Homo sapiens: one gene and its partner. The protein of the gene in region 2 purifies or fractionates together with the protein of the main gene of each other region. This does not show direct contact. Each region holds a gene or a part of one and is shown on either strand. Other genes may lie near its edges. The genes, in order: IQSEC1 and BRINP1.

What was found.
Region 1: the proteins of BRINP1 (region 2) and IQSEC1 purify together in Homo sapiens (affinity purification with mass spectrometry; one large-scale study listed by BioGRID and IntAct). This does not show direct contact.

What each region holds. Positions count from the first base shown.
Region 1 is NC_000003.12:13,063,207-13,067,029, forward strand, and holds part of IQSEC1 (IQ motif and SEC7 domain-containing protein 1), read right to left. Parts: intron 1-3,823. UniProt on the Homo sapiens protein: Guanine nucleotide exchange factor for ARF1 and ARF6. Guanine nucleotide exchange factor activity is enhanced by lipid binding. Accelerates GTP binding by ARFs of all three classes.
Region 2 is NC_000009.12:119,168,230-119,170,705, forward strand, and holds part of BRINP1 (BMP/retinoic acid-inducible neural-specific protein 1 precursor), read right to left. Parts: intron 1-2,476. UniProt on the Homo sapiens protein: Plays a role in neurogenesis and brain development. May suppress cell cycle progression in postmitotic neurons by inhibiting G1/S transition.

The DNA of each region.
Region 1 (3,823 bases), on a different chromosome or scaffold from region 2:
GCCCACAACCTCACCAGCCATGTCCCAGCTTTCCTTCAACCAGTGACAAGTCAATTCACTGAAAGCTAATTCATAGAACAGTCAATTTGTAGAATGACAAAGTCATAAAAAGTACTTGCTTCCTTCCCTTAACCTTTTAGCTTTAGTTGACTGGTCCATTTTTGTCTTCAAAATGGCATTTGATGGAATGTTATTTGTCTCTGTCCCAGCTGCCCACTGTGGTGGCAGGAGGCACAGACAAGCATGGTGACTGTGTCATCAGGAATGCTGCGGGCACAGGGCAGAGGAGGGCAGGAGTGGCCGTCAGCAGGGCTGTTCTGCAAGCCCAGGGGAGCAGGAAGGCCCACCTGAGAAGAGGCCTGGGCTGGGGCTGGGGCCCCGGTTCTGGGAGGCATTGGGGGACAATGGATAAGACCTCTGCTCCATCAGCCAGCTGAAACCACTGCCTGCTGGCAGAGCAGGGTCTGAAACTCAGAACCCCTGGGGGCCAGCCAGGCCCCAGCTGGCAGCAAAAGGGACTTGTGTTTCCTTTCTGGGGTGAGGGGCCGGCCCCAGTGCCCCTGGTGGGATGCAGCCTTGGAGAGAAGGGCCCAAGGTGTCTCAGGTGTCAGGGAGTGGAGGGCAGTAGAGGTTGGTGACCATGGTGCACCACCAAGGAACTGAGACTGGGAGGTCACTGGCTGTCTGCTGTCCTCAATTACCAGGGATCTCAGCCTGTCAGACCTGATACCCACCCTCACCTTTTAAAAATTAAACTTTTTATTTTGAGATAATCGTAGATTCATTTGCAGTTGTAAAAAAAAAAAAAACAAAAAACAATACAGAGAGATCTTATATACATCGTTTCCCCCAATGGTAACATCTTACAAAACTATAGGATCCATCACTACCAGGATTCTGACACTGCACTGTCCTCCCATCTTAGGTAGCTTTCCGATTTTGCTTGTACCGTGGAGCCTGCATACATGATACGCCTGCATAGAACTAAACACACGCATGCACACACATACAGGCACATACAAGTGCCACCACAGTCAAAATACACAATAGCTCCATTACCACAAAGATCCCTTGTCCAGCACCCCGCTCCTTAAATCCAGAGCTTTGCACTATCCTCTTCTCTCTTCTCAAATGAAGCTGATGACTCATGTGATCCATCCACACACATATTTAAAACAGAACCAAGAGAATGGCTGAATGGTAAAATTACAGAGAAAAAAAAAGAGGAAAATAATTTAGAATAAAATAAACGGTAATTTGTCATGTTAATCGTGGGTGGGCCTACCCTATAGTCACCTGCCTGGTCGTGTGACAGCGACCACAAACCCAGATGGATGCTGGAGTTCACTGGGCACTCTGGCACCATGAGAGATGCTGTCCTTGGTGATGTGGTGCTCTGAATGGTGGCAGCTCTTGGCTGAGCTCCGAACATATCAGAGTCTGATCTTCCCTCGACTGCGAGAGCAGTTGCATTCCTGGAAAACTCAATGCATATTCAAATCATACAAAATGCATTTTGTGGTTTAGATGTCAAGAGGAGTGAGGACCAGACTCGGATAGTTGCTCGCAGATTTTCATGCCCATAAATATCTGTGTGGATTCTTGGTGTGGGGGCCTGTCCTGCACAACCTAGGCTGGCCCTGCTCCCACATGCCCTCTGGCAGCTCTGCCTGAATCTGGGGCCCACTGTCAAAGAGATGCTGATAACTGTGCCCAGGACTGACCTGGACGGAGAGCCAGCTAAGGTGACAATGATGAAGGCTTGACGCATAGGCTTCCTGGAGATGTGTGGGGGTGTTCATCTTGGAATGTTCAGGCCCAGTCCCACCAGCCTCCCTTCTCCTGCCTGGGGAAGACACACAGGGCTTGGCTTCCTTCATGGAGGCCCCACTGCAAGCAGCTGGCCAGGGCTTCCCATGGAAGGAGACCACCACCTCCTGCAGGGGCCGGCTGGTCACACATCCCCCAAGTTGAGCGTTTCATTGGCTCAAATCCAGAAACCACAAAACAGTGGTGGGAAAACTAAACTGCTCTGTGTCACCAGCTTGCTGAGGGAGCACTTCAATGATGAAGCACACATATAAATGCACAGAAATTCACCAAGGACCCAAAGGAACTGGACACAGCCGTGGCCTCTGGGCAGAAGAACAAGAAGCAAGGGAACCAAATAGACAATATGTGCAGCCTTTTTTTGTACCATGTGGATGAATAATCTCTCAGTTATATGACTATATTTGAAAAACAACAAAGACGTAACCATCCCTTTTGTAAGCTAAACTTCATCACTCACACTTTTATTCAAGAGGGGGAAATTTAAAAACACAAGATACCACTTCACACCATTAGGATGGCTATTATTAAAGAAAAACAGAAAGTAATGAGTGATGGCGAAGATGTGGAGAAACCAGGACCTTTGTGCAGTGGTGGAGGGAAGGTAAAGCAGTGCAGCTGCTGTGGAAAACAGTATGGCGGCTCTTCAAAACAGTCAGCATCCAATCACAATCTGACCCAGCAATCCCACTTCTGAGTATACACCCAACAGAAATGGAACCAGGGACTCGGAGAGGTATTTGCACACCCATGTTCACAGCAGCACTATTCACAACAGCCAAAAGGCAGAAACAACCCAGTGTCCATCAATGGGTGAATGGACAAACAAAATGTGGTCCATCCGCACAATGGAACAGTGTTCAGCTTTAAAAAGGAAGTTCTGCCCATTGCCGCAGCAGGGATGAACCTTGAGGACATGAGGCTAAGTGAAGTAAGCCAGTCAGGAAAGGACAAATGCTGTCTGATTCCACTCACATGACATCCCCAGGGCAGTCATATTCACAGGGACAGAGAGCAGAATGGTGGGTGCCAGGGGCTGGGGATGCAAGATGGGAGTCTGCGCTTACAGAGCACAGAGCCCTGTTTGGGAAAGTGAAGTTCTGGAGATGGATGCTGTGTTGGCTGCACGGCACTGTGAATGCACTTACTGCCGCTGAAATGTGTGTAATTAAAAAAGGCAAACATGTGGTCGATCTGCACAACGCAACAGTGTTCAGCTTTAAAAAAGGAAGTTTTCTGTCTATCTTACCACAATTTTAAAAATGGTGATTTGTACCTTGTCAGGCCAGGCCCCTCAGGGATGCTAGAAAGCAAAGGCAGGACTTCCGGGCAGCTGGTGACAACAGAGGGGCCGGCACTGTGTCTGTCACAGCGAGGACTCGCCACGCGCCATGCGGGAGCTCTATGAGGGGGCCCATTTGCCTGGGGGAGTCAGGAAAGAGGCACAGGCTGGGCTGTGAGGTCTGAGGTGAAGGGGAAGAAGGGCACTCCCGGCAGAGGAGCCAGCATGGGCAAGAGTGTGGCAGGGTGAGCCTTCCAGGCAGGGCTGGGCAGGAGTTGGAACGTTGTGGGATCGTGGGAGGCCAGGAGGACCAGGAGAGAGGGCCTCAGGCCCCAGAGCGGCTGAGGAGAGAGGGGTGTGTGCAGGAAGGGGCGCCCACTGCCCCACCCCGTTCTCTTCCCAGCTGTATCCAGGAGCCGCTCTGGCAGGTGCCACCAGGTCTTATTTACTGTGTCCCTTCTCTGGGCGGTAGCTCCATGCAGGCAGGGCGGGCCTGGTCCATTTACAGGCGTAGCCCACAGGCCTGGCGTGTGTCAGGACGTGGACTAGATGTCCAGTGACCATGGTGGGCTGAGTGAATGAATGGGTGAGTGATCGGCAGGATGGGGCCATGTGAATGAGCCAGCATGCCTGGAGCTGCTGTGCCTGGCAGACACCACTCCTCCCACTCCCAGTCCCCTGTGTGTCGCAGCATAACCAGGAACTTTCCAG
Region 2 (2,476 bases):
AGATAAAGGAAAATTGGAGAAGGTTAGCTACCATGAGTGGGTCTGTGAGTTACAGTTATCCAACTGATAATGCGAACTGGAGCTGCCAAAAAGATGAAAGGACTGGATGGAGCAGTGACAATACAGGAAGGGCATCGAATATAAACGTAAGAACTACATTGTAGCTCCTCCTAATGCCACAAACCAGCTGCATGACATCGTACTTTACCTTCCTAATGTTCAATGTCCTCATCTGCAAAGTGAAGGGGTTGGAGTAAATGTTCCTTGGGGTCCTTCCAGCTCTTTGATTCCATTATACACTAGTCCCAGAAAAGTGTGATTCAGGAAATGAAAGTGTCTAGACTCAAATACCCCTTCTGGATGACAACATATTGTAAACAATCAGCAATGAAAAAGACCTTAGGGGTTATTTGTTTACTTAAACCACATGTTTCAACCCCCATTACAGATTCCTCCCATGAGGGTGTATAACATCTACCAACTTCAACAAAAACAAATTATATTTTATCATACGCTAGAAATCATGTAGTGATTTCTATTGATGATCTTACATGATCCTCATGGTGGTTTTTTAGAACATGTTAGAAAGGGGTTATTTCCCAACAGATGATGGAGAAGGTGTGGAGAAACAGGAACACTTTTACACTGTTGATGTGAGTATAAGTCAGTTCAACCATTGTGGAAGACAGTGTGGCGATTCCTCAAGGAGCTACAATGAGAAATACCATTTGACCCAGCAATCCCATTATTGGGTATATACCCAAAGGATTATAAATCATTCTACTATAAAGACATGTACACGATGTTTATTGCAGCCCTGTCCACAATAGCAAAGACTTGGAACCAACCAAAATGCCCATCAATGATAGACTGGATAAAGAAAATGTGGCGGAGGAGCCAAGATGGCCTAATAGGAACAGCTCCAGTCTACAGCTCCCAGCGTGAGCGACGCAGAAGACAGTGATTTCTGCATTTCCATCTGAGGTACCGGGTGCATCTCACTAGGGAGTGCCAGACAGTGGGCGCAGGTCATTGGGTGCACGCACCGTGCGCGAGCTGAAGCAGGGCGAGGCATTGCCTCACTTGGGAAGTGCAAGGGGTCAGGGAGTTCCCTTTCCGAAACAAAGAAAGGGGTGACTGACGGCACCTGGAAAATCGGGTCACTCCCCCACCGAATACTGTGCTTTTCCGGCGGGCTTAAAAAACGGCGCACCGCGAGATTATATTACCGCACCTGGCTCGGAGGGTCCTACGCCCACAGAGTCTCGCTGATTGCTAGCGCAGCAGTCTGAGATCAAACTGCAAGGCGGCAGCGGGCTGGGGGAGGGGCGCCCGCCATTGCCCAGGCTTGATTAGGTAAACAAAGCAGCCGGGAAGCTCGAACTGGGTGGAGCCCACCACAGCTCAAGGAGGCCTGCCTGCCTCTGTAGGCTCCACCTCTGGGGGCAGGGCACAGACAAACAAAAAGACAGCAGTAACCTCTGCAGACTTAAATGTTCCTGTCTGACAGCTTTGAAGAGAGCAGTGGTTCTCCCAGCATGCAGCTGGAGATCTGAGAACGGGCAGACTGCCTCCTCAAGTGGGTCCCTGACCCCTGACCCCTGAGCAGCCTAACTGGGAGGCACCCCGCCAGCAGGGGCACACTGACACGTCACAGGCAGGGTATTCCAACAGACTTGCAGCTGAGGGTCCTATCTGTTAGAAGGAAAACTAACAAACAGAAAGGACATCCACACCAAAAACCCACCTGTACATCACCATCATCAAAGACCAAAAGTAGATAAAACCACAAAGATGGGGAAAAAACAGAACAGAAAAACCGGAAACTCTAAAAAGCAGAGCGCCTCTCCTCCTCCAAAGGAACGCAGTTCCTCACCAGCAACGGAACAAAGCTGGATGGAGAATGACTTTGACGAGCTGAGAGAAGAAGGCTTCAGACGATCAAATTACTCTGAGCTACAGGAGGACATTCAAACCAAAGGCAAAGAAGTTGAAAACTTTAAAAAAAATTTAGAAGAATGCATAACTAGAATAACCAATACAGAGAAGTGCTTAAAGGAGCTGATGGAGCTGAAAACCAAGGCTCGAGAACTACGTGTAGAATGCAGAAGCCTCAGGAGCCGATGCGATCAACTGGAAGAAAGGGTATCAGCAATGGAAGATGAAATGAATGAAATGAAGTGAGAAGGGAAGTTTAGAGAAAAAAGAATAAAAAGAAATGAGCAAAGCCTCCAAGAAATATGGGACTATGTGAAAAGACCAAATCTACATCTGATTGGTGTACCTGAAAGTGATGGGGAGAATGGAAACAAGTTGGAAAGCACTCTGCAGGATATTATCCAGGAGAACTTCCCCAATCTAGCAAGGCAGGCCAACGTTCAGATTCAGGAAATACAGAGAATGCCACAAAGATACTCCTTGAGAAGAGCAACTCCAAGACACATAATTGTCAGATTCACCAAAGTTGAAATGAAGG